Homo sapiens: one gene and its partners. The protein of the gene in region 4 purifies or fractionates together with the protein of the main gene of each other region. This does not show direct contact. Each region holds a gene or a part of one and is shown on either strand. Other genes may lie near its edges.

What was found.
Region 1: the proteins of DSTN (region 4) and URM1 fractionate together in Homo sapiens (co-fractionation; one large-scale study listed by BioGRID). This does not show direct contact.
Region 2: the proteins of DSTN (region 4) and ISOC2 fractionate together in Homo sapiens (co-fractionation; one large-scale study listed by BioGRID). This does not show direct contact.
Region 3: the proteins of DSTN (region 4) and UBA3 fractionate together in Homo sapiens (co-fractionation; one large-scale study listed by BioGRID). This does not show direct contact.
Region 5: the proteins of DSTN (region 4) and DNAJB12 fractionate together in Homo sapiens (co-fractionation; one large-scale study listed by BioGRID). This does not show direct contact.
Region 6: the proteins of DSTN (region 4) and AKR7A3 purify together in Homo sapiens (co-immunoprecipitation; one large-scale study listed by IntAct). This does not show direct contact.
Region 7: the proteins of DSTN (region 4) and KSR2 purify together in Homo sapiens (co-immunoprecipitation; one large-scale study listed by IntAct). This does not show direct contact.

The regions. Positions count from the first base shown.
Region 1 is NC_000009.12:128,381,374-128,384,873, forward strand, and holds part of URM1 (ubiquitin-related modifier 1), read left to right. Parts: intron 1-3,500. UniProt on the Homo sapiens protein: Acts as a sulfur carrier required for 2-thiolation of mcm(5)S(2)U at tRNA wobble positions of cytosolic tRNA(Lys), tRNA(Glu) and tRNA(Gln). Serves as sulfur donor in tRNA 2-thiolation reaction by being thiocarboxylated (-COSH) at its C-terminus by MOCS3.
Region 2 is NC_000019.10:55,458,843-55,463,123, reverse strand, and holds the start of ISOC2 (isochorismatase domain-containing protein 2), read left to right. Parts: upstream 1-1,481; 5' UTR 1,482-1,612; intron 1,613-4,281.
Region 3 is NC_000003.12:69,063,366-69,066,865, reverse strand, and holds part of UBA3 (NEDD8-activating enzyme E1 catalytic subunit), read left to right. Parts: intron 1-2,754; coding exon 2,755-2,798; intron 2,799-3,362; coding exon 3,363-3,427; intron 3,428-3,500. UniProt on the Homo sapiens protein: Catalytic subunit of the dimeric UBA3-NAE1 E1 enzyme. E1 activates NEDD8 by first adenylating its C-terminal glycine residue with ATP, thereafter linking this residue to the side chain of the catalytic cysteine, yielding a NEDD8-UBA3 thioester and free AMP.
Region 4 is NC_000020.11:17,594,075-17,597,574, forward strand, and holds part of DSTN (destrin), read left to right. Parts: intron 1-3,500. UniProt on the Homo sapiens protein: Actin-depolymerizing protein. Severs actin filaments (F-actin) and binds to actin monomers (G-actin). Acts in a pH-independent manner.
Region 5 is NC_000010.11:72,344,920-72,348,419, reverse strand, and holds part of DNAJB12 (dnaJ homolog subfamily B member 12), read left to right. Parts: intron 1-3,292; coding exon 3,293-3,470; intron 3,471-3,500. UniProt on the Homo sapiens protein: Acts as a co-chaperone with HSPA8/Hsc70; required to promote protein folding and trafficking, prevent aggregation of client proteins, and promote unfolded proteins to endoplasmic reticulum-associated degradation (ERAD) pathway.
Region 6 is NC_000001.11:19,282,073-19,285,770, forward strand, and holds the end of AKR7A3 (aldo-keto reductase family 7 member A3), read right to left. Parts: intron 3,043-3,698; coding exon 2,946-3,042; intron 2,714-2,945; coding exon 2,614-2,713; intron 2,054-2,613; coding exon 1,924-2,053; intron 821-1,923; coding exon 659-820; 3' UTR 501-658; downstream 1-500. UniProt on the Homo sapiens protein: Catalyzes the NADPH-dependent reduction of various carbonyl-containing compounds, including aldehydes, ketones, and toxic products from cellular metabolism or environmental exposure.
Region 7 is NC_000012.12:117,528,491-117,531,990, reverse strand, and holds part of KSR2 (kinase suppressor of Ras 2), read left to right. Parts: intron 1-283; coding exon 284-325; intron 326-977; coding exon 978-1,050; intron 1,051-2,933; coding exon of another isoform or gene 2,934-2,994; exon of another isoform or gene 2,995-3,445; intron 3,446-3,500. UniProt on the Homo sapiens protein: Location-regulated scaffold connecting MEK to RAF. Has very low protein kinase activity and can phosphorylate MAP2K1 at several Ser and Thr residues with very low efficiency (in vitro).

The DNA of each region.
Region 1 (3,500 bases), on a different chromosome or scaffold from region 4:
AGGTGGTCAGCAGAGGTCTCTTTAAGGAGGTAACATACCAAGGCCAGGTGCAGTGGCTCACTCCTGTAATCCCAGCACTTTGGGAGGCCAAGGTAGGCGGATCACCTGAGGTCTGGAGTTAGAGACCAGCCAGGCCAACATGGTGAAACCCTGTCTCTACTAAAAATACAAAAATAGCTGGGCATGGTGGTGGGCACCTGTAATCCCAGGTTGAGGCAGGAGAATCGCTTGAACCCTGGAGGTGGAGGTTGTATAGTGAGCCGAGATCGTGCCACTGCACTCCAGCCTGGGCGCAGAGCAAGACTCCGTCTCAAAAACAAAAAACAAAACAAATAAAAGGTAGAAACCAAAATTTAGAGAAGTCAGGGGTCTCACCCCAAGTCATAGAGTTATTTAAATAGCAGGGTTGGGATTCAGAACTAGCTTTCAGGCCACTGAATTTCAGAGTCCTGGCGCTTTGCCACTAACCCATCACCGTCTATCCCAAGAGGCTCCCTGAATTACTCTAACATCTTACATTTTCCAGTTTTTACGCTTTCCTTCATTTATTTATTCATGAGTTCAACAACTACTTATTTCAACTTTCAGATGACCCCAAGAGATAAGAGACCCCTAAAAGAGAAAGAGAAGGAGGGAGGGACCTGAGGCCTGCCCAGAGTTACCCAAGTAGGGAGGCTGGGCTGGGACTCAGATTTTTTTATCCTTCATCTTCCAGCCACTGTTCAGGGAACAGGCAGGGGCCTATCCCCACTCTGGGAAGAAAGGAGGGGAGTGGGAGGGAAGGCACAATGGCCCACTTAGTCTTTGGCTCCTTTGCTGTGAGTCCCTACACCTGGTTCCTGTTGTGCCCAGAGGCATGGGTCACACAGCAGACCCATGGTAACCTAGGTTGGTGACCTAGGTCACCAACAGAGCTGGTTAGCAGCTGCCAGGCCTCACCCTGGCACATGTGAGCCCAGCTGGGGGTCAGGGGCCTGGTGCTGCTAGGAGAGTCTTACCCTTCCCCCAAGTCCATGCCCAGATATGTCATCTGGCAGACTTCCCAGCCTAGGGGCTGCCACTTGGCCAAGCGAGTCTTGGAGGTTCCAGCAGAAATAATAGCAGCCGTAAGATTTCAGAATGTGACAAGCCTCACAAATGAGGGAACTCGTGGCTCCTAGGCCAGGGGAGAGCTTCCAACCCAGCCAATTTGGGAGAAATGATGAGCAAGGCCTGAGGGAGTGAGACTGCGAGAGAGGAAGCCTGGCACGCGCAGTTGCACATCACTTATTCCTGCCAGACTCTTTCTTCCCTATCTGTAAGATGGGAGGTTGGGCTCGCTCTGTATGTTATTGAGCTGGTTGTCTCTTTGACATCTATAAGAAAAGTTTCTTCAAGATCCAAGTATATACAATTCGGTGAAGCAGAGTGTGCTGACCCAGTAAGAAGTTGTGTGAGAGAAGGGATGTCTTAACAGCCATCTCGCTGAAACGGCCATGCAGGCACCCACCAGCTTAGGGTATTGCGGCTGCTGGGAGTTGGCCTCTGTGATTCAAGCATCCCTTTGACCCAAGGCCCCCTGCCCAGGCCCCAAGTGTAGACATGGCCGCCTCACCTTTCCCTGCCTGTCTTCCCCTGTCCTGCCTTTGTGCCCCCTCTGCCTGCTCCACTTGTGTTAAAGGGTGGCTGGTGAGGGAGGGCAGGAGCTGCAGGAGCTCCTGGGCGCTTTAAACTGCTTAGCATGCATTTCACAGCCTCTCTGGGGCCAGCTGTTCCTTTCTCTGCTCTCAGGGCCTGTTTGCTGATCCCCTCTCCACCTCCCTCCTCCCCACACCCCTCCCAGTCCCTGTGCAAAATTGCTTTTGAAAAGATCCACTTTCTGCTTAATTAAACAATGAGGAGGTCCCCTCGCACATCTGTAAACCTCCTTCTGAGGCCAGTTTAGCCCACAAACTGCTCCATTCTTACCCCCATTCACTTGTAAATGGCCCCTCTGATGTTCCCTCCACCCCCTCTCCTCTGTTACTCCCCCCTTGCCAGCTCTTTCTTTTCCCTTTTCAACTGAGGCCTGGGGTGGGCTCTCCGAAGAGCCGTCTTGGAGCCTGGTGGACTTGGTGGGGACAGAGGCAGTTTAACCTGTGGAAGAGAAGACTTAGGGGATCCTTTCTTCCAAATCTGAAGGGCCATCCTGGGGAAGAGGGGGTGCATTTGTTGGCATGGTCCCCGTGGACCATTCAGGCCCAGTGGGTGGGAATGACAGGAAGACAGATTTCTGCTTGGGAGAAAAGAGCTCTTAACAATCAGAGCCGCTCCACAGAGGAGCTGACCTCCTGTCCCTGGAGGTGTTCAAAGAGAGGCTGGATGAGGGTCTGTTACGCCTGCGAGTCAATATCAGATACGACTTTGAGGTTGTTCCGTTTCAGTCCCACGAGGCTGAGGCTGACACCCTTTGGGGCCCTCCCACAGTGGGCAGTCAGTGTCCCCCAGAATAGGACAAGTCCACCGGGGCGAGGGATTCTGGTGGAGCTTGCGTCGGTGCTCTCCACAGTGGGTATCCTCCCTTTGGCAGCAGCCTTTAGAAGGTACTGGAGCCCAGAGGATGAGGAATCTGAAGTCACTGTGGGCTTACAGCTCAGAGCAGCCATCTGTTGAGCGTGTCCTGTGTGTGTGACACTGCCAGGCCTGCCTTGGGCATTGTGCCTTACGTAATCCTCAGCAGCTCTTGGTGTTTGGATTATTATCCCTGCTTGTCAGAGGATGACACTGAGACAGCAAGATGAAGTGACTTCCTAGCTAAGGCCATCGAGCACACAGCCGAGGTCCTCTGGCTGTAGACTCAGAACTCAACCACTCCAGCATAGAGCAGCAGCTCTCATTGCCTGCTCTGCCCCCGATGGGCAGGCCAGGTGCCAAGGTATCCTGCACTGGAAACCTTGTATTAAGTGCCCATCTCCTTCCTCTGGTGCTGTGTGCCCGGGGGCAGCCTGGCCGCCAGCACCTACAGACTCAGAGTGTCATTCCTACCACCTGGGTTGTACTGGGAGCATTGGCCAACCCCAACATCTTGTGGGTTCAAACATCTAACACAGAAGGAAGGTCAGTATCTAGGACCCCTCACTACTCTCGCAGTCCCCTCATTCCCTTTCCAGCTTCTGATGGGAAGATACGGGATGCCACAGAAAACCCCAGCCGGTCCCAGCACTATCTGATTAATGGTTGGCTCTACCTTGCCCTCTAAAGCTGAGGTGCCAGGCCACTGGGCAGAGCGTGCAGAAACCCAGAGAGCGCGAGGGGTATAGGTTCTTCCTCTGGATCCTGGAGTAATTACAGCATTGATATGCAGGGCACAGTGCTGAGAGCTTTGTATATATCGTCTTATTTGATCCCCCACAATGACCCTATGAGACAATGTTAACATCCCCATTTTACAAAAAAAGGAAGCCGAGGCTTCCTATTACCTAAGGTAATAGAACTAGTAAGTGATGGAGTCCAGCTCAAAACCAGGCCTGTCTGACTCCAGG
Region 2 (4,281 bases), on a different chromosome or scaffold from region 4:
TCTAGGACTTGAGGATTCAGCTGTGAACGAGGCAGACGGGACCCCTGCCTCAGGGAGCTCCCTGTTCTGTGTGCATGTGTGTGTTTTGGCGGGGAACAGACAATAAAAGAGTATATCCATGCATTTTTCAAAAAGCAAGATTCATTTCCAATTCAGATTGGAGTTAGTGCTGAAAAGAAAATAAAACACAAGGCCGGGTGCGGCGGCTCACACCTGTAATCGCAGCACTCTGGGAGGCCAAGGCAGGCGGATCACTTGAGCCCAGGAGTTCAAAACCAGCCTGGGCAACAGAGTGAGACCTCCATCTTTACAAAAAAATTAAAAAATTAGTCAGGTGTGGTGGCGCATACCTGTGGTCCCAGCTACTCAGGAGGCTGAGGTGGGAGGATCGCTTGAGCCCGGGAGGTTGAGGCTGCAGCAAGCTGTGATCGTACCATGGTACTCCAGCCTGGGTGATAGAGCAATTTTTTTCTTTTTTTTGATGTTTCAAAAAAATTAAAAACAGCGACCTGATGGAAGGGCTACCTGACACCAGGTGGTCAGGAAAGGCTTTGAAAGCCTGGAAGGTTGGGCCATGGGGAGTCCTAGGATTCCAGGCTGAGGCAGCACACGTGCAAAGGCCCTGCGGTGGGACATTGAGGGAAGAGCAAGAGGAGACCCCTGTGGCTGGAGCGGAGTGAGCAGGGGGAGTGGTGAGAGGCGAGGTCTGCACGGACCAGGAAGGCCGACCATGAATTGGGAGGAGTTTGGATTTATTCCAAGACAGATAGGAAATTCTCTCTTTCTCTCAACCTCCATTTCCAAGCACAGAGTCTAAATTATTCTAAACACCACCCGAGGAGGCAGGTGCTGTACAGATGGGGAAACTGAGGCAGCACAGAGCGCAAAGGACAGGGGGGCGTCAAATTCCTCACTTGATCGCTCCCTCAGCCAGCCCCTTCCTGGAAAGTGCTTGGGTATCTTTGTAAGCCTCCGTTTCTTGAGAGAGGGCCAGGTTTCGAACCGCAGACATGCCTCTACTCTAGGTAAGACCCCTCTCTCTCTCTCCCGGCCTCGGCGGTCTGCTCTGTGCAATGGGGCCGGCCGAGACGCCCTCTCTCCAGCCAGAGTCTGAGCCTTCGGAGACCACCGCGCGACTCCGCCCCGTCGGCCGCCACTCACGCCCTCTACGGCTCTCCATTGGCAGAACGACCTGCTGCCCCGCCCCCACGGCGCCTTTGCGAGCTAATCATTTTCTTGAGACTGACAGCCTTGCCGGCACCGCCCCCCCTGGGGCGGGAGCAAAGCAGCTGCATATGCGGATTGGTTGAGAGGCAGGGGGCGGGGTGAGTTGGTGAGCGCCGATTGCGGGCAGAGGCAGTGGCACATGCGGATTGGCCGGAGAGAGCGGCGAGGCAGAGCATGATGAGTGTCGATTGGACGGCTGGGCCCAAGTGGGCGGAAAACGGACGGTGCAGGGGGTGGGCCACGTGTCCAGCCCTAACGAAACGGTAACCAGCCCTGGGAAGCCCGCAAGAGGCCTCAGCGGTGGCCGTCCGAGAGCCGAGAGGTGAGGGTGCCCCCGCCTCACCTGCAGAGGGGCCGTTCCGGGCTCGAACCCGGCACCTTCCGGGTAAGTCCTCTCTCGCTGCTGGCGCTATTTGGAGACCGACCTTACCGCCTAGCAGATGGGGAAACTGAGGCTCTGCCTGGGCGTCCCGGGCCAAGGTCACAGGACCAGAAGGAGGACTCCACCTGGCCCCGCCAGAATTGGCTGGCCAGAGATTGGAAGCGTCCCCGGGTCGCGCCTGCCGCCTCTGTAACAGCGCTGGGGGGTGGGCAGGTTTAATCCCCATTTCTCCGACGAGAAAACTGAGGCTAAGACAAAGAGAAACTTGCCCAAGGTCACACAGCCAGGAAGTCCGGGCTCCAAGGCCGGGTTTCCGAGACCGGGTGGGGAAATCAACGGCCCTACCCCGCCCCCTGTTGCCGCCCACCTCCAGCCACGCCCCCTTTGGCCTTGGGTACCCTCCACCCAGGCTGAATCTCTCCTCGTTCCGCAGGACACGCCCAACCCTCTCCAGCCCAGACCTCCCCTTCACATCTCTCTCTCTCACACACCCACCCTCACCCCAATTTTTCATCTCCCAAAAACCAGTTCCCCTCCCCGGGATCCCCTATGAATCTTCAGATCATGCCCCTCGCTCGACCAGAAACTGGGGGCCTTTCTCCCCGACTTTCCCCACCGTCCCAGCTGCCCCTTCCTGACTCTCCCCTGTCCCACTGGGCCCCAGCGCCGACCTCCTGCTCTCTGGCCTTTTGCCTCCAGTTCAACCGCACGGCGGGGGCCTGAAGCCATCTTTGTATTTTGCATTTTGAACACTTTTTCTGGAATAATACCACAAACGCAGAAAATCGAACGGTTTGCAAATACACAGCTTAAATAAATATTTATAAAGGGAGCACCCTGGTGTAAACAAGTATCCAAAGAAAAAAGTCAAACATGCGCCACATCCCAGGATCTCCCGCCGTCGTCGTTTCCATCACTGTGGTCCAAGGGCAGTCACTGTCCTGGCTTCTGACGCCATAGATCAGTTTTGCCGGGTTTTGGCTTTATGCCAACCCTTTATTGTATATAGTATTGACTAGACAACTTGTTGCACATTGTCCAGAATTCAGAAGAAACAGAATAGGACCCAGTGAAAAGGCTCCTACAGACTTCCCCGGTGCCTGGTTCACCCGCCTGAGTCTCCCGTTTCTTGCTTGTTTGCCAGAGATAGCAGATATAGATATAGGCAACACAGACACATTTTCCTCTCCCTTTTTTCTTTGGCACAAAAAGGAGCATTCCATACACACTGTTCTGCTTCTTTTTCACTTCTCTCAAACATGTTTTCGTATTGTTACTTAAAGAGCTTCCTCGTAATTTTTTCTGGCTGCGAGGAATAACAGAGTATAGTTATGGCATGACTTACGTAACCAGTACCCTCATTGTGGACATTGATACTTAACTTCTGCTCCTTTGCTCTGGGGAAGAGTCCTGTAATGAATAATCCTGTGTCGTTTCACATGAATGTCTGTAGGATAAATGCTTAGGAGCAGCTTTTGAGGTCAGAGGGTTTGTGTATCCATCATTTTGAGAAATGCAGCTGCTCGGCTGTCCCTAGGAGTTGTTGTGACCCACACTCCTACCAGGCCAGAGGGGAGTTCCTGGGTGCTCCACATGCCTGTCCTAGGCTTTTGGACATGCTGGCCCCCAGATCTGCCCCTCCATGGCTCCTCACTGCCCTCAGCAGAGAGACTCCAGGGCCCTTGTGACCCACCTGTCAGCTCTCCAGCTCCTGGTTCCCTCAGAACCATCCCTTGGGGCCCGGGTGTCCAGGTCCCGCCTCCTGCACAGGGGAGGAAGAGTTAGCACATGAGTGGCCGTGAGAGGGTCACTCCATGGGGAGGAAACCGCAAGGGCTGTTTGAGAGGAGGGAGTGGCTGGGCTGAGGCTGGAGGGTCTTCAGAGCAGTGCGGGGCGGGGGGGAAAGGGGCGCCTGCATCTTAGTCCTGAGGACAGAGAGAATCCACGGGGGTCAGGGGACAGTTTGAGACAGGGGAGTAATAGCTTTGTGTTTTGTGAAAAGATCATTTTTCTGTCGTCAGTTTCTCTAGGAGAACACTGCAGCCCCTGCCAAGCTGTATCTGACTCCCTCCAAATCCCACTTATCACAGTTGTAATTATGGGATTAATTCACTGTGGTTTTGTTTCAGAGGGAGTTTCCATTCAATTTTATTTAATGAGATAAAATTTGCACAACATAAAATTGACCATTTTAACCATTTATTCGTTTTTAAACTTGAGATATGGTGCACATAGAAAACATTTGCTATGGTAGATGGATTATGTTCAAAGAATAATAGGCCAGGCGCGGTGGCTCACGCTTGTAATCCCAGCATGTTGCAAGGCTGAGGCGGGAGGTTCGCTTGAACCCAGGAGTTCGAGACCAGCCTGGGCAACATAGGAAGACCCTGTCTCTAAAAATATAAAAATACAAAAATTAGCCAGGTGTGGTGGCATACACCTGTAGCTCTAGCTACTTGGGAGGCTGAGGTGGGATGATCACTTGAGCCCAGGAGGTTAAGGATGCAGTGAGCTATGATTGCGCCACTGTACTCCAACCTGGGTGACACTATGAGACCCTGTCTCAAAAAGAAAAAATAGTACAGGGAGGCCAAGGCAGGAGGGTTGCTTGAGGCCAGGACGAGAGAGAGAAAGAAAGACAAGGAACAACAGTGTCCTAACTACCCAGCTTT
Region 3 (3,500 bases), on a different chromosome or scaffold from region 4:
CCAATGGAAGAAGCATAGTCTTCAACAAATCGTACTGGAGCAATTTCATATCCATAGTTAAAAGATGAATTTTGACCTAAACATACAAAATTAACTCAAAATGGATTATAGGTGTAAATATAAAATATAAAATGAGCCAGGCGTGGTGGCTCATGCCTGTAATCCCAGCACTTTGGGAGGCCGAGGTGGGTGGATCACTTGAGGTCAGGAGTTCGAGACCAGCCTGGCCAACATGGTGAAACCCCGTCTCTACTAAGAATACAAAAATTAGCCGGGCACAGTGGCTCCCAGCTACTCAGGAGGCTGAGGTGGGAGAATCGCTTGACCCTAGGAGGCTGAGGTTGCAGTGAGCTGAAATTGCGCTACTGCACCCCAGCCTGGGCGACAGAGCAAGGCTCCATCTCAAAAAAACAAAAAAAAACACAAAAAACCATAAAACGATAGAACTTTAGGGTTTGGTGGAGAGTGCTTAGGCCACGTCAAAAGCAAGACCTGTAAAAGGTGGGGTATGGTGGTGCAGATCACTGAGGAAGCAGTGAGCTTTTATCATACCACTACAGAGTCCTGGCTGCTTGGGAGGCTAAGGTGGGAGGATTGCTTGAGACTAGGAGTTTGAAGCTATAGTAGGCTGTGGTCATACTGTGAATAGCCACTGCATTCCAGCCTGGGCAATGTAGTGAGACATCATCTCTAAAAAATTAAAATAATTTTTTGTAAAAGCATGAGCCATAAAAGGAAAAAATTGATACACTGAACTTCATCAAAATTAAAAACTTGCTGTGTGAAAGACCCTCTTAAACGGATGAAGAAAAGCCACAGACTGGAGAAAATACTTGTAAAGCATCTGATGGAGGACTCATATCTAGAGTATATAATGAACTCTAAAAACTCAACAGTAAAACAAAAAAAAATTCAATTAGAAAATAGACAAAAGATAGGAAGAGATATTTTACTAAAAAGGATGACGAAAAGCACATGAAAAGATGTTTCACATCAAACTAAGACCACCATGAGCGATACTGTTACACAACTATTAGACTAAAAAAAAAAAGCCAGTCTCAAAAGGTCATATACTGCATGATTCTGTTTATATAATACTCTTGAAATTACAGAATTATAGAGATGGCTGGGTGTGGTGGTTCAGGCCTGTAATTCCAGCACTTTGGGAGGCTGAGGCGGGAAGATCACTTGAGCCTGGTTGTTTGAGAACAGCCTAGGCAACAAATGAGACCCTATTTCTGTAAAAACTAGAAAAATTACCCGGGCATGGTGGCACATGCCTGTAGTCCCAGCTATGTGGGAGGCTGAGGCAGGAAGATCAGTTAAGCCCAGGATGTGGAGGCTGCAGAGAGATCTTTATTGTGGTCGAATAGTTATGTGTGTTGCCTGGGGTGGTGGTTACACAAATCTATGTGTGTTTAAATGACAGAATTATAAACACACATTGTACCAATGTTCTGTTCATGGTTTTGGTACTGTACTATAGTAAGATGTAACTGGGAAAGGTGCATGGTACCTACCTATACTATCTGTGCAACTTACTGCGAATCTATATTATTTCAAAATAAAGAGCTTAAAAATGCAAATACAGGCCCCTGTAGGGAAAAAGGAAGAGTTGGTGGGGGTGGGTTGGTTAGTGGGGGGCACTCAGTTTGTCTATCCCCATTATGTGGGTCTGGGAAACTTTGGGTATTTTCTAGAAATCCAGATTAGATTTCTTAGTCTGGCTCTTGGTTCCCTGATTGCCATTCCTCCACTGTTTGCTTTGTTTCTTTTTTGACCTCTTTCTAGCTGTAGCTTCGTTCTCCTGCTTGCCTAGCATTCAAAGGGAATAGAGGTCTGAATGACTGAGGGCTAGAATTGAAATTATTGTTCATAGCTTTATTTGTAGGCAAGAATTAAAAATCTAGAGGAAGCATGTATTGTCCCTTTTTTCTATGTATTGTCCCTTTTTTCTCTGTATTGCTTTTAAAAAATTTATAGTGGACTATTTATCTTAACTTTAGAGAAGTTGCATAATTTATAAATTATTAAACAATTGCTCCATTCATTAGAAAAATTAAAACAAGTTTTTGCACACATGTGCTATTAAAACATTAAGTGCTATATTGACTCACCCACAATCAGTTTTGAATGGAGTTTCCTTTTTAGCCTCCAGGGATGGGAAGACTGGTAATAGGATTTGGTAGGGTAACTTGAAAACTGAGTTAAATGAGAAAGGTAGAAAAAATTCGTACTTTTTCTCCTCCCCACAAAAAATAAAAACAGTAAAATCTTTACCAACTGAAAAAGCTGTTGAAATTTTCTGTATGTTAAAAAAATGAGCTTTGCAGTAACTCTTAAAATCACCTAGCAAAATAGGAACTATAATGTGCATCTTTCCTTCACTAAAACATTTATTGCATCTCTTCTTGATGCTGATGATTGAGGACACACATTCTGCTTTCCTGGGGCTTATGGTTTTATATAAAAACCAAAGCAAAGTAGAAAGTATACCTCCTACCAAGGGCATAAATATAATGATATAGGGGTTCAGGAATGAGAAAAAGTAAGTAGTTAGGGGAGGAATGGCAGAAAAGTTTTGTCAGAAAGGAGAGTTGTGTTCATTTAGTCAGATTCCTTGAATTCCACTGATGTGAACATTGATTACTTATTTCTTGTTGTAAATATATGCAGAGTGTGTTCCTTATGGCATTGTCAAATTCATTTTAGAAATTAAAACTTAGCTGCTTAAGTTCCTTTACTTGTATTCAGACATTTCAACAAGATTCAAGATTTTAACGACACTTTCTATCGACGTAAGTTTTTTACTTGAAATTAATGCTCACTAGATTCTTAGAATTTTTTAGTTGGTAGCTATTCAAATATTGCTAGCTATTTCAAGGCTATTTCTTCACTTGCTTTCCTCTCTCACTGTTGGCTTTTCAGTAATGTTGCTGATAGACTGAAAAGAGAATGCTAGTTTTAGCTGACATGACCAGCTACAAGTTTCTATGCTTACCTGAATGAGAGTTCACTCAAGGAATTGGAGCTCTGAGAACGTATGTGGGATTACAGTAAAAAGTGCTTGTGGTTTTTTTGTTGGTTTCTTAGAACGTGCAAATTGTTTTCTGCAAGTGCTTTTTTTTTTTAATTAGTAAACTTTATTTTTTAGGGCAGTTTTATGTTCACAACAAAATTGAACAGAAAATTTTTGAAAACTTGGGTTCTCATAGAGCTTCCTGTTCCCACAAACACACTACCTTCCTAATCAACATCTTGCACCAGAGTGGTACATTTGTTGCAGTTGATGAATCTACATTGAAAGATCATCATGCAACTACATATTTAAAAACTAAAGTTGCTTTTTTTTTTTTTTGTAGAATTTCATATTATTGTATGTGGACTGGACTCTATCATCGCCAGAAGATGGATAAATGGCATGCTGGTAAAGACTTTAGTATTGTTATAGTTCTCTGAAGTTCTTGCTGCTGTGCTTCACATCCCCAAAATTAGAATTG
Region 4 (3,500 bases):
TATCTCAAAAATAAATAAATAAATAAATAAATAAATAAATAAATAGCTATTTTTTACCTTCAGATCAATGGAAAGCCACTGGACTGTTCTAAGTATGGTGATCAGATTCATGTTTATGTAGAGGATGAATTGGAGGGTAAAGGTGATGGGCAGTTGGTATGGGCAGTCTTGTTGTATTAGAACTGCAATAACAAATTAAATTCAAAATCTCAGTGACTTAACACAGTAAAGATTTGTCTCTGTCACGCAGAGTCCAGAAGGGTTGGGCAGCCTTCTCCTATCATGAAGTATGCTTACCAAGGTCATCTTGGTGGGAGAAAACAGAGCTTTAAGATCACTTTTATTTAACTTTTATTTAATTTTTGATGTTTTAAAAATCATTTTATTGTGGTAGGATTCACATCTAAAAAGCTGTATTTAGTGTATTTAAAGATCACTTTTAAAGGGCCAGGACTGGAAGTAGTTTACATAACTGGGCCCAGCTTGGCTGTTCAGAACTCAAATGGCTGTTCAGAACTCAGTCATACAGCCAACTCAGCTTGCCAGGAAGGCTGGGGAATGCAGTCTTTCCTGTTCAGCCAAGAAGAGAAAACAGTATGATGTATACATATCCTAATCTCCCTCCTCTGCAGCCACTTGAGGAGTTACTGCAGTCCAAGTAAGAGGCAATGGAAGCTTGGACTGAGGGTGAAATGAGATGAATGTATCAGAGAAAGATGAAAATCCAAAGAGTAAGATAATGGAGGAGTTGCTAAGAACATCTCTTAGGCTTGGAGCCTTATGTGACTAGGAGGGTGGTGATAGCTACTGAGAAAGGAAGACTGGTTAGAAATGGACCAGCTTGTTTTTTATTTTAGACATGTTGTGCATCACATGCCTTTGAGACACACAACTGGAGATGTGAGATAGGAAGTTGAATGTAAAGACTAGAAGCTCAGAAGAGCAGAAGTCTGAACTAAGTTTTGGCTTAGATGATTGAAAGCTTGAGCTTGGGTAAACTCTCTGAGGAAGAATGCAGAGTTCGTCCTTTCCTTCCACACTGCCATCAGCCTCTGCTTTCCACTGCATTGTCCTACCACCCTCACCCCTTGACCTCAGCTGACCTTTTGGAGGTCCCCAGAGCCCTTTTTCTTGTCCTTAGGTAGTTCCTTTTGGAACTCCCCGTCATAGCTGTTCTGAATTGTTAGTAGTAGTAGATTGGAGGAGTGCCCTCAAACCCATCCTACTCCTCCTGCCTTATACTTCACAGAGAAAATAGAATCTTTCAGACACAATTTTTGGCAGTGTATCTTCCTTCCACCTCAAAACTGTCATTTTCCCTTCCTCCCTGTTTCAGAGAAAAAAATGTGTATCTTTTTCTTAGGCTAACTCTCCCATCTGTGCTGTGGATCTTACCCATTTCTTTAGATCTCTGATATTGTTAATTTTATGAGTGATTAAGATTATCTCCTCTGGAATTGCTTGAACCCAGGAGGCAGAGGTTGCAGTGAGCCGAGATGGTGCCATTGCACTCCAGCCTGGATGACAAGAGCGAACGTCCATCTGGAAAAAAAAAAAAAATCTCCTCTGGAGCCAAATTGCCAGAGTTCAAATCCCAATTCCTCTATTGTTTACTCTGTGACCCTGGGCAAATTATTTAATTTTGCTATGCATCTTTAAGATGCAAATAGTGATAGTAGCTGTCTCATAGAATTGTTGTGATTTAGAAGTGTCTAGCAATAGTAAGTACTCAGTGTATGTTTTAATTTTTTTTTAATGTTTTGGCTCTTCCTCTTTATTCCTTCAAGTTCTTAAATATCTAGAACAGTTACATCTCCCCAATCATAAGACAACTTGCATGAAGTACCATTCAATCTTCCCTTTTTTCTTCATTGTTAACCATCTTATGTTTTCTGTCTTTACCTCTTCAATTCCCCATGGGTCCCCAGTCCATTATGGTTGACTTCTGTCCCATTTCTCCCATCTGTTGAAATGTTCAGAGGCCCAATTGCCAAGCCCAGCGATCTGTTTTCATTCTCTGAAATACTGCAGAATTGGCTGTTGATGACTTTCCTCCTCAAAATATTCTCCCTTGCTTCTAAGATGCTGCTTTCTTCCTTCTTTTTCTTCTTAGTTTTCTGATTACCTCTTTTTAGTGTCCTTGATGGGTTTCTCTTTTTAATTTTTACGTACTCAGTGGTGAGAAACTAGATTGGTTTTTCTTTTGCTGCTTAATGTTGGTGACCCCATGGTGTGGGCTAGTCCAAAATATGGATTAGGTGAAGCCTTCCAACGAGATCCGTGCTCATATTTCTGCCACTGTCTGGTCATCTCCACCTAGATGTCTTGCACAGTCTTCAGAGTGGATGTGTCGTACTGTGCCATATTTCCTTTTCTGTTCATATATTGCAGTCTAGTCACTAATCGAGAGAATCCTGGGGCTTCTCTGATACCACTCTTTTGTGTCTCATTCAGCTATATTGGTTTGACTTTGACATGTCCTTGAATTTTTCTGTTTTTAACCTCACTGCTGTAGTTCAGAGCTTTCTTCTCTGAATATTTGTAATTGTGTCAAAATTGGTTTTCTGCTTCCAGTTTCTGTGCCAGTTTCTCCTTCAAGTATTCAGTGTTAATTTCCTCAAGCACAAGTGTCTAATGGTATAAGAAACCTCCACAGACATCACTTCTGATAGAAAAAAAGACAAAATTCTTCCTTACTGAGGCTTTTAAGGAGCTTGTAAGTTACAGCCAGATTTGGCTGAGATTTATCTGTTTTATAATTGCAGAATGCACATTTACTTTGTTTTTGATTACTAGTACATCATTGATTTAATTTACAAATCAGAATTTAGAATGTTTGAGATGCTTAGATATTGATTGATGTATTTAAAGATTGGTTGATTGAATATAAGGCTTTAGATGTTGCCTTCCTGCTTTTAGAAATTGCTTGTTGGGTCAAATGTGACTTCAACATTATGGACTAGGGAGTTAGAGGGATTGGGATCTGTTTCTAGTTCTTCAATTTTTGTTGCTTTGAACATTTTATTCATCTGTTGCAAAATGGAGATTCTTAACTTGCTTAACATAAGATACGTTGTAAAGATCAGAAATATGCTACTCCTAAAGCAGTAAAAGGTTTAAGAAAAGTGCTTTTTAAAATTAGGAATGTGGTAATATTGTGTACTTATGAGTTTTCTAGTCCTAATTTTCTGTTTCTGCCACTTTATTAGAGTGAATGTTCATTTATGAACAGAAAATGTGGAGTAGATGGCATTGGAGTGTGTTATTTAGAGATCTTTAATGAATGAGATGATGAAATAGCCCAGTTACCTTAATATTAAGTAAATGCTAGGATCTTAGTGTATCTTTCTCCCAGGATTCTTGCATGTGTTTTAAAGTGACAACTTTATTTTTATTTGTTTGTATAAATGTATGGGGGTACAAGTGTAATTTTGCTACATGCATGGATGGTAGCAGTGAAGCCAGATCTTTTAGGGTATCCATCACCCGAATAACATACA
Region 5 (3,500 bases), on a different chromosome or scaffold from region 4:
ATCCAGATGCCTGTTTTCCCAGCTGGTCAGCTTGTCAGAGGCTTTAGGATTTTACTACCCAGGGCGCTGGGGCCCAGGCCTGACTGAGGTTTCGTGCCTGGAATAAATGGACACAGGGACCTGCTGCCAGAGACTTGGGCCCTTCCTCATTTAATCTGCAGGAACCACAGGCTTGTTTTTGCTTGCTTTTGTTTTTTTGAGATGGAGTCTTGCTCTGTTGCCCAGGCTGGAGTGCAGTGGCACAATCTCAGTTCACTGCAACCTCTGCCTCCCGGGTTCAAGCGATTCTGTGCCTCAGCCTCCCGAGTAGCTGGGATTACAGGCGCCTGCCACCACGCCGGCTAATTTTTGTATTTTTAGTAGAGACGGGGTTTCACCATGCTGGCCAGGCTGGTCTCAAACTCCTGACCTCAGGCGATCTGCCCGCCTCAGCCTCCCAGAGTGCTGGGATTACAGGTGTGAGCCACCATGCCTGGTGGGCTTGGTTGTTTTTGTTTTTGTTTTTCTGAGACAGAGTCTCATTCTATTGCCCAGGCTGGAGTGCAATGGCATGATTTCGGCTCATTGCAACCTCCGCCTCCCAGATTCAAGCCATCCTGCTGCCTCAGCCTCCCTAGTAGCTGGGATTACAAGCGCCCACCACCATGTTCGGCTAATTTTTGTATTTTAGTAGAGACGGGGTTTCACCATGTTGGCCAGGCTGGTCTTGAACTCCTGACCTTGTGATTCGCCCGCCTCGGCCTCCCAAAGTGTTGGGATTACAGGCGTGAGCCACAGCGCCCAGCCGGGCTTGGTTTTCAATAGCCATGATGCTGCCGAGGGTGATAGTTAATGTCCTGTATAGACTCCAGACATTGAAGAGGACATTTGGCATGGCCAACCACTTGCATTAGAAAAATGTGAAAAATAGCAAGTTGTGAGCACAGCAGATACTTCTTTTGGTCTCCTACCATCTGTGTCCCCCTTGGGCAAACTCATTTCCCCCATTCCTCTTTACAGCTAAGCAAAGGCCTCCAGGAAGGCTTCCTGACTGATCCCACCTGAAACAGAGGGTCCTGCTAAGCGGGGTCCCCTTTGCAGGGTACTTTTCCCAGCTTGGCACTCAACATGCCAAGTCTGTTAAACTCACTACTTTGAGATCTTAAAAATCTGAAGGGTTGACTGGGCACAGTGGCTCATGCCTGTAATCCCAGCACTTTGGGAGGCCAAGGCAGGCGGATCACTTGAGGTCAGGAGTTCGAAACCAGCCTGGCCAACATGGTGAAACCTCATCTCTATTAAAAATACAATTAGCCGGCGTGGTGGTGTGCACCTGTAATTCCAGCTACTTAGGAGGCTGAGGCGGGAGAATCGCTTGAAACCGGGAGGCAGAGGTTGCAGTGAGCTGAGATCATGCCATTGCACTCCAGCCTGGGCAACAGAGTGAGACTCCGTCTCAAAAAAGAAAAAAAAAAAAAACCAATGGTAAAAATAGGGAGTAGTGCAGTGGACTGAATATTTTACTTATTCAAAATGTGGTGCAATGCAAACATATTTGCAGATTTGAATGAGTTCAGTAGAAAAAAATGGATTCATAAGTTGGATTCATAAAAGCAAAAAGCAGAGTAAAACCAAATACACTGAAAGAAATAGCAATTAAAGTAGTATTAAATGAACTCTAGCAAGGCACGGTGGCTCATGCCTGTAATCCCAGCACTTTGGGAACCCGAGGTGGGCAGATCACTTGAGGTCAGGAGTTCGAGACCAGCCTGGCCAACATGGTGAAACCCCATCTCTACTAAAAATACAAAAATTAGGCCGGGCACGGTGGCTCACACCTGTAATCCCAGCACTTCGGGAGGCCGAGATGGGTGGATTGCTTGAGGTCAGGAGTTCAAGACCAGTCTGGCCAACGTGTTGATATCCCATCTCTACTAAAATACAAAAATTAGCTGGGCATGGTGCTGGGCGCCTGTAATCCCAGCTACTAGGGAGGCTGAGGCGGGAGAATTGCTTGAACCCAGGAGGCGGAGGTTGCAGTGAGCTAAGATCATGCCACTGCACTCCAGCCTGGGCAACAGAGCAAGACTCCGTGTCAAAAAAAAAAAAATTAGCCAGGCGTGGTGGCACGTGCCTGTAGTACCAGCTACTCAGGAGGCTGAGGCATGAGAATCACTTGAACCTGGGAGGTAGAGGTTGTAGTGAGCTGAGATCGCACCACTGCACTCCAGCCTGGGCAACAGAGTGAGACTCTATCTCAAATAAACAAACAAATAAAAAAAAATAACTCTAAATAAAGTACTATAGGGTTTATTAATAAAACCAAGTGTGCTTTTGGAAGACTATCAGAATATCAGAATTCTGCCTAAATTTATTAAGAAAAGAGATATATGTATAAGTATACTATCTGAAAAATAAAGCAATTACTACAGATTTATCCATGAATTATGTAGAATTTTATGTCAATTTTTATTAACAAAATTAATTTTGTTCATGTAAAACGAAAAAGACCTCTATCCTGCCTACTTTTTTTTTTTTTTTTTTTTTGAGACAGATCCTTGCTCTGTCGCCCAGGCTGGAGTGCAGTGGCACAATCTTGCTAATCTCCACCTCCTGGGTTCAAGCAATTCTCATGCCTCAGCCTCTCAAGTCTCTCGAGTAGCTGGGATTACAGGCGCCCACCACTATCTCCAGCTAAATGTCTTTTGGGGTTTTTTTTTTTGTATTTTTAGTAGAGATGGAGTTTCACCATGTTGGCCGGGCTGGTCACAAACTCCTGATCTCAGGTGATCCGCCCGCCTCAGCCTCCCAAAGTGCTGGGATTACAGGCGTGAGCCACTGTGCCCGGATTTTTTTTTTTTTTTTTTTTTTGAGACAGGGTCTCACTCTGTCACCCAGGCTGGACTGCAGTGGCACCATCTTGGCTCACTGCAACCTCTGCCTCCCTAGTAGCTGGAATTACAGGCGCCCGCCACCACATCTGGCTAATTTTTTAATTTTTAGTACAGACGGGATTTCACCACATTGGCCAGGCTGGTCTCAAACTCCTGACCTCAGGTGATCTGCCTGCCTCAGCCTCCCAAAATGCTGGGATTACAGGTGTGAACCACCACGTCCGGCCTGTCCTGCCTACTCTTAAGGACTATGGCTTTCAAGAGAGCAGATGACTGTCCCCCCAGCACCCACAGGCCTAATCAGGGCAGGAGCTGGTGGCTTTGCTGGGAGGGGAAGTGAGTGGGAAGCAGCGGGCCGCTCGGCGAGGCACGCAGCCTGCTTGAGCAGGAGCTCTGAATGGTTTCCTTGCCTTGCACAGCCCTGATTGAGTCCCTCAACCAGAAACCACAGACTGCCGGTGACCAACCCCCACCCACAGACACAACCCATGCCACCCACAGGAAAGCAGGTGGGACCGATGCCCCCTCGGCCAACGGTGAAGCTGGAGGAGAGAGCACCAAAGGCTACACTGCAGAACAGGTTGCAGCTGTGAAAAGGTAGATGGGTGGGCAGGGGCTGGAGCCTGG
Region 6 (3,698 bases), on a different chromosome or scaffold from region 4:
TGGGAAGGGATGACTGTACTTTGCAATGTGAGAAGAACATGACATTTGCGGGGGGGTGGTACTGGTACAATGATATCATCAGGGTATTTTGTCCCCTCCAAATCTCATGTTGCAATGTGATCCCCAATGTTAGAGGTGAGCCTGGTGGGAGGGGTTAGGGTATGGGGGCAAATCCCACATGAATGGCTTGGTGCCATCTGTATAGTAATGAGTGAGTTCCAGCTCTATGAGTTCACACAGGATCTGGTTGTTTAAAAGAGCCTGGAATTTCCTCCCCTGTCTGTCTCTTGCTCCCTCTCTCACCATGTGACACGCTGGCGCCGCTTCCCCCTCTGCCATGACTGTAAGCTTCCTGAGGCCCTCACCAAGAGCAGATGCCGGCACCACACCCCCTTGTACAGACTGCAGAGTGGTGAGCCAAATAAACCTCTTTTCTTTATAAATGACCCAGTCTCAGGTATTCTTTTATAGCAACGCAAACAGACTAACACACAGCACCCTGGGAGTTTTATTCTTCATTTGGTGGTGACTCTTCTATTAGGTTTTTGTCCAAATACTTCCATCCCTAAGAATTTACTGAGGCAGTTCTAAATTAAAGAAAATGTGAGTAACAAAAGATGTTACAGAAGAGCCTTGGGCAGCCTGAGAAACGATGGGCCTAGCGGAAGTAGTTGGGACATTCGTGAGTAACCAAATGCCAGGCTTGATTAAAGGCGTCCACGACAGCCGGCTCCAGGGGCCCTTCCTCTGCCGCTGCCAAGTTCTGCTCCAGCTGCTCCAGGCTGGACATGCCCAGGATGACCGCGTCCCCGTGGGCACCCTGCAAGGGAGACGGCCAGACTTCAACCCTCTTCTGCTGCACAGCGACTCTACTCACAGCCGTCCCAGCCACCTCCCTGCTGAGATTTGGGATCTCTTGTATCCCATATGTCCAGAAAGAACTTAAGGTGCCTTGGATAGCTGTACCCATGTGACGCAAAACCTGTATCCCTTCCCCTACTGCCACACGACGCTTCCAGACAGACCTACATTCACAGCCCAGTTCTGCCCCCCAGCAGCTGTGTAAACGCGGCTAAGTTATTAAACCTCTCTGAGATTCAATCCTCTTTTCTATTTTCAACATGGTTATGGGTGTGAAAAATTATGTAGAGCACTTAGCTCCCATTTATTGAGCACCTACTGTATATATGCCAGACACTATTGCAACATCTAAGGCTGGAGTTGGATATAAGTGAGGAAGACATGAGGCACTGAGAGAGGGAAACTCCAGCTCCCACCAAAAGGATGAGACTAGTGGGCTTTACAGTTAAACCTGTGTTAAAATGTCTGCCCCTTTCATAGCTGGGTGAAACTCAGTTTCCTCGTCAATAACACTGGGATAGTCATTTCATAAAGCTGAAGGAATAATGAAATCCCTGCAATGAAGCTCTCATTACAAAGCCTGGCACTCAGATACCATCAAAGACCAATGAGAAGGCCGAGCGCAGGGGCTCACGCCTATAATCCCAGCACTTTCAGAGGCTGAGGAGGGCGAATTGTCTGAGTTCAGGAATTTGAGACCAGCCTGGGCAACATGGTGAAACCCTGTCTCTACTACAAATACAAACAATTAGCTGGGCATGGTGGCGCACGCCTGTAATCCCAGCTACTGGGGAGGCTGAGACAAGAGAGTTGCTTCGGCCCAAGAGGCAGAAGTTGCAGTGACCCGAGATCATGCCACTGCACTCCAGCCTGGGTGACAGAGTGAGACTCTGTCCCCCCAAAAAAAAAACATAGAAAAAGACCAGTGGGAAGAATGTTTGTGAGAGTTGAAAGAAAGAGAAATTTCAGAGGAATCGATAAACAAATGTTTCAGCCTTCATCTAAAGATATTGCTGGTTCCCCTGGAAGGGAAGAAGCTGAGCGCACAGGGTCACTGGTTACCTGCAGCTGTGAGTGGTGGTACATCCACCGGAGGGTGGCCGAGGTCATGCTGGGGGCGCTGGCGCCATACGCGGCCTGCAGGGCCTTCTCCACCAGGGCAATGCCCTCAAAGTGGTGCTCCTTCCAGTAGCTGGGAAGGGGGGACGGTGGCACAGGTGTCAGGGCCACATTGGGAGCCACAACCAAAGAGCCAACCAGGGCCACTGTCCCACCCCACACCCTGCAGCCCTGAGGGGCAGGTGTTCTCTCTAGCCATGGGTCTCCCACTTTGCTGGGCAAGAGAACCACTCAGGATGCTGGGCCCCTCAGCAGAGACCTCAACAAATCTTTATTCCTGAGGACTCATCAGCCTGCTCTTATTTTCCTTAGGGACACAAAGGCCGCTAAGATGGGTCAGGACTCAGCCCCAGGCCTCCTGGACCTCCCTCCAGAGCTCCTTCTTTCCTTCCTAGCAGGTGATTGCTCAGGAAAGAGCAACGACTTCAAGACCCCGAGGTCCAGGGAGTCTCCTTTCCTCCTGGAGGTCCCAAGACAACAAGAAAACCGATGGAGGGTTTGGAAATTCCCGAAGAAATTCAGGGGAGTAGGTGCAGCAGCGAGGAAAGGCCTTACCCCAGGAGCAGCCCAGGACTTCATTCCACATAAAGCTGACCCCACCCCAGCCATCCACACCAAGCACCCACAGCTTACCGATTCCTGTACATCTCTGCCCAGGTATTCCCAAAGAAGCGGCCCACGGGCTGTTTCCCATTCTTGTCCTCATACTTGTACTTGCCGGTCAGCAGGCCCCCTGAGGGAAAGCAGCAATCAGCCCCGGGGCCTAGAGTGCCCCAGAAGCTGCCACATCCCTCAGGGCTCTGGTCTAGGGGAGGGGCAGGGACCCAGGAGGGCTGAAGATGCAGCCTTTACGTCTTTGACCTCAGAGGTCAAAGTTTGTCAAACCCTCCTTGCTTCCCAGGTCCTGGGCTGGGCATCTGTGGGTCGGGAATAGGCTGAGACAGGGCCAGGAATGCTCCACGTACCAGCCAGAGGGTTGAAGGCATAGAACCTCAGTCCAAAGTGCCTGAGGCAGGGGAAGAGCTCCGTTTCCACCTGCCGGGTGATGGCATTGTACATGCCCTGTAAGGAGAGGGGCCCCGGGGGAGAGGGTGGATGTGTCAAAAGAAGAGACTTCAAAATTACCCTTCCAGAACCCTTATTTCAGACCTTAACAATTCTAGGACTTTAACCGTCTGGGCGTATACTTATTCTAACTGGTGCTGGTGAAAGAAGCTTATGCCCATGGAAAATTCATTCATTCTGCCAACTTTCATGAGCACCAACTATGGGCTGGTTGTCAGATTTAGATTCTTAAGCCAAAAGGACAGGGTCCCTTCCCTCAAGGTTTTATAATAAGGTCAAGTATAAACAGTTATAATCAAGTCATGAGGCAATCATAATAGACTAGAAAGTTCTGTGACCAGTGCCTGGCACCAAGCAGGTGTGCAAATATTTGTGCAATGAATCATGAGGAGGTAAACAAGGACCTGAGGTCTCAGGGTCTTCTGGGCCCATCTAGAAAGGCTTCCAGAGGAAGAGACACGTATGTGAGACCTGAACCATTCTCTCACGGAAGGGGCGGTGGTGGGGGAAGGGCTTGTTCCAGGCTGAGTGCAGGGGAAGGTAGGGAAGGAAGGGTCCAAGGTGCACAGATAGGCAGGAAGGAAGCAGATGCCCAGTGGCCAGCCTGAGGAGCTTGAATGGCATCCTGAGGGTACCTGGGAGCCATCTGCAGG
Region 7 (3,500 bases), on a different chromosome or scaffold from region 4:
CATTTCACAAAAATGGTATTGTAGTCAGAATGTCTGTTTGAGTTGGAGCAGTCTGATTTTAGGGAGTGTGAGATGTCAGATGGGAGGGTCGGCATGGATGTTTAGAGTTCTGGTTTCTTTACACATGTTTGCAGTCCCTTGTCTGCAGGGATGTCTGCAGAAGTATGGAAACTCTTGAAGGTGGGCAGAGAATGACCATGTGGTGGCTGTAAGAGCTCAATCTGGTCCCTGAAGCGATGTCTCCCTGGGGACACTCACTTTGATGTTTTCTTTCTTTTGCAAGCATCCCACTACTACAAATACAAGCAGCAGTTCATCTTCCCAGGTGAGTTTCATGTGAGCTGGAAGCAGCCCCTTCTGAACAAGCCCCGCTGCATTGCAGGAGTTTCTGGGATGAATGGAGGCAGATGTTGTGGGGGTGCCTAAGATCAAAGAGGGTAGTGGAGTCACCACACTCCAGGATAATGGCTGAACATGGAAGTGGAGAAGAAAGAGTGGGCACAGTGGGACCCAAGGAGGTCCCAAGGCACCGTGGAAAGGCCTGAGAGGGTGGAGTGCTGTAGAACACTGGGCGAGGGTGAGGAGGGGTCTAGAGCCATGTGGCAGGAAAGAGATGGTCATAGGGTCCTGAGCTGGGTACTGAGAGGATGTGAAACCAAGGGGCTTTATCATCCCAAAGGGAACCCAGGAGAAAGAAAGATTCAGAGATGACCAATGAATGCTTCAGGCTAGATATTTGAGGGTTCTGGCAGCCCCCTATTCAACAATGAGGAATTTTGTTGAGGATGTCATCCAGAACCCTGGTCCAGCTGAGCAGGTAGAGTCCAGGTGGTCCAGGAAAGGAGAAAGGAGATTGGCCAAGGGCAGAGATCCAAGATCTGGTGAAAAATTGGCTGCCATGTCGCCCAGGAATCAGGCCTTTGCGGGGGTTGTGGACTTCACATTTTTTTTCTGAGTGTTCAATCTCTGGTTTTCAGATGTGGTGCCGGTGCCGGAGACGCCGACCCGGGCGCCCCAGGTCATCCTGCATCCGGTGACCTCGAATCCAATGTAAGTGAGACAGAGACATCTTCCCCCTTTCCCAAGCTTCCCAGCCCTGGCCCTACAATCCACTCAGGTTCCCTATCTTCTTTCCTTCTCTTCCTGGAACTGATGGAGTTGGGGGCAGAGGGAGATGTACAAGGGGGTCAGAGAGACATAGGGAATAACTTAGGCAAAGAGAAAGGGCGTGACAGCTCAGACAGAGAGATGGAGAGAGAGGCAATGCTGTTCCTCACGAGCAGCTATGCCTTGTGTCTCTGACCCTGCCTGTCAAATGCAATTTCCAGGGGCTGGACCGTTTCCTAAGGACCCATAACCTCCCTGTGATTAGGAAGAAAACTTTCCCCGGGTGATAGCTAGTACTTAATGAAAGGGCAATTATTCCATGTCACTGAACATGGAATAACTTTCAAAAGTCTCATTGAGGTTTATGGAATCAGCAAACTATAGCCCATGGGACAGATCCAACCTCCTGCTTGTTTTTATTTAAAGTTTTATTGGAACACAGCCATGCCTATTTGTTTACAATGTATTGTGCATGGTTGCTTTCTCCATGCAGCAGCAGAATCGAGTAGTTGTAACATAATCTGTATGGCTTGCAAAGCCAAAAATATTTACTCTATGACCCTTTGCAGAAAGAAATTTGCTAACCTCTGGTTTATATTATTATAAAAATAATATAAGCTAATTTTGGAAAATGTGGGCTATTCTTTAAAAAGGGAAAGGCAAAATAATCACTCATGATCTCACCACTGTTAAAACTTCTATGTGTGTTCTTTCCATTTATATTTTACATAGTTATGACCCACAATATATGCAAGCAGCTACCATCCTGCTTTGTTATCTTTATGCCAAACATCACATTTTATGAATATTATTTTAGCCTCTCCATAGACATTGTTGGTTTTTGTTTTTTGTTTGTTTGTTTTGAGACAGAGTCTCACTCTGTCACCCAGGCTGCAATGCAGTGGTGCAATCACGGTTCACTGCAGCCTCAGCCTCCTGGGCTCAAATGATCCTCCCAGCTCAGCCTCCCGAGTAGCTGGGATTACAGGTGTGTGCCACCACACCCAACTAATTTTTGTATTTTTTTTTTAATTTTTTATTTTTGTAGAGACAGGGATTCACCATGTTGCCTAGGTGGGTCTCAAACTCCTAGGTGCAAGTGATCATTCCACCTCAGCCTCCCAAAGTGCTGGGATTACAGGCATGAGCCACTGCACCTGTCTGATATTGTTTTTAATGGGTGTAAAATGACATATTGATGTAGAATAATTTTCTTAACCATTTTCCTATTGCTGGATTTTACATTGCTTCCCATATTTCATTGTTGTAAATAATGCTGCAATGAACATCTTTGTGCATAGCATCCTTAGGAAACAGACCCTCTTTTCAGGTGGTTTATTGCTTGTGCAGCAGAAGTGAAGTCACCTTGGCCAGGCGCAGTGGCTCATGCCTGTAATCCCAGCACTTTGGGAGGGCAAGGTAGGAGGATCACCTGAGGTCAGGAGTTGGAGACCAGCCTAGCCAACCTGGTGAAACCCCGTCTATATTAAAAATACAAACATTAGTCAGGCGTGGTGGCACACAACTGTAATCGCAGCTACTTGGGAGGCTGAGGCAGGAGAATTGCTTGAACCCAGGAGGTGGAGGTTCAGTGAGGTGGGATTGTGCCACTGCACCCCAGCCTGGGCAACAGAGGGAGACTCTGTCTAAAGAAGAAAAAAGTGATGTCACAAAGTCACCTCCTTAACTTCTTTGGTTGCGATGGAAGCCTGGGGCTTGCTAGGATTTGACCAGTTTCCTAACTCACCTTTGTGCCTACTTAGTTTTTCTTCTGGGTCCCCTAACTGCTTCATCTTTTCTGACTGGTCTTATGGACTTTGTTAAAGACTTACATGGTACATCTCTGAAATCAAAGGAGCAGCAACTTGCCGGGGGATATGGTGCTGACATCTAGCTCGAGATCATTTCTCTGCTTCACATAAACCAATTCTACAATTTGTGCAAGATGAACTCCAGGTTATTAACTGACAGTCCAGAGGTACCAGCGAAAAACAGAGTCAATAGCTGCTTGCGATCTGCTTAAATGTGCGCGGAGTGATGACAACTCTTTGCAGAAGGAAATACTTGAATAGCCCTGGCTGCTGGAATCACGCCTTGATGCAGAGAGGAGGGTGGCCTGTTTTGGTTTTGGGCATGAGGAGGGACTCCAGCTGCATTGTCCCAGCCAAGTCTCCCCCAGGGCATCAAGTTCTCAGCATGTCAGCTGTCATCGTGCAGGTTCATTCCACTTTCCCAGGCTGTGCTATGAATAATTGGTTAATACCATGGCGAATGCCACTTTGTGGTTGACCTTTCTTTCTCCTTCTTTTAGTTCTTGTGGTCTTTCAGACTCTTTCACCAGGACCCCCTCCAGCAAGTGGATTGACTCTGTGGAGTCAGCCACTTCCTGCAAT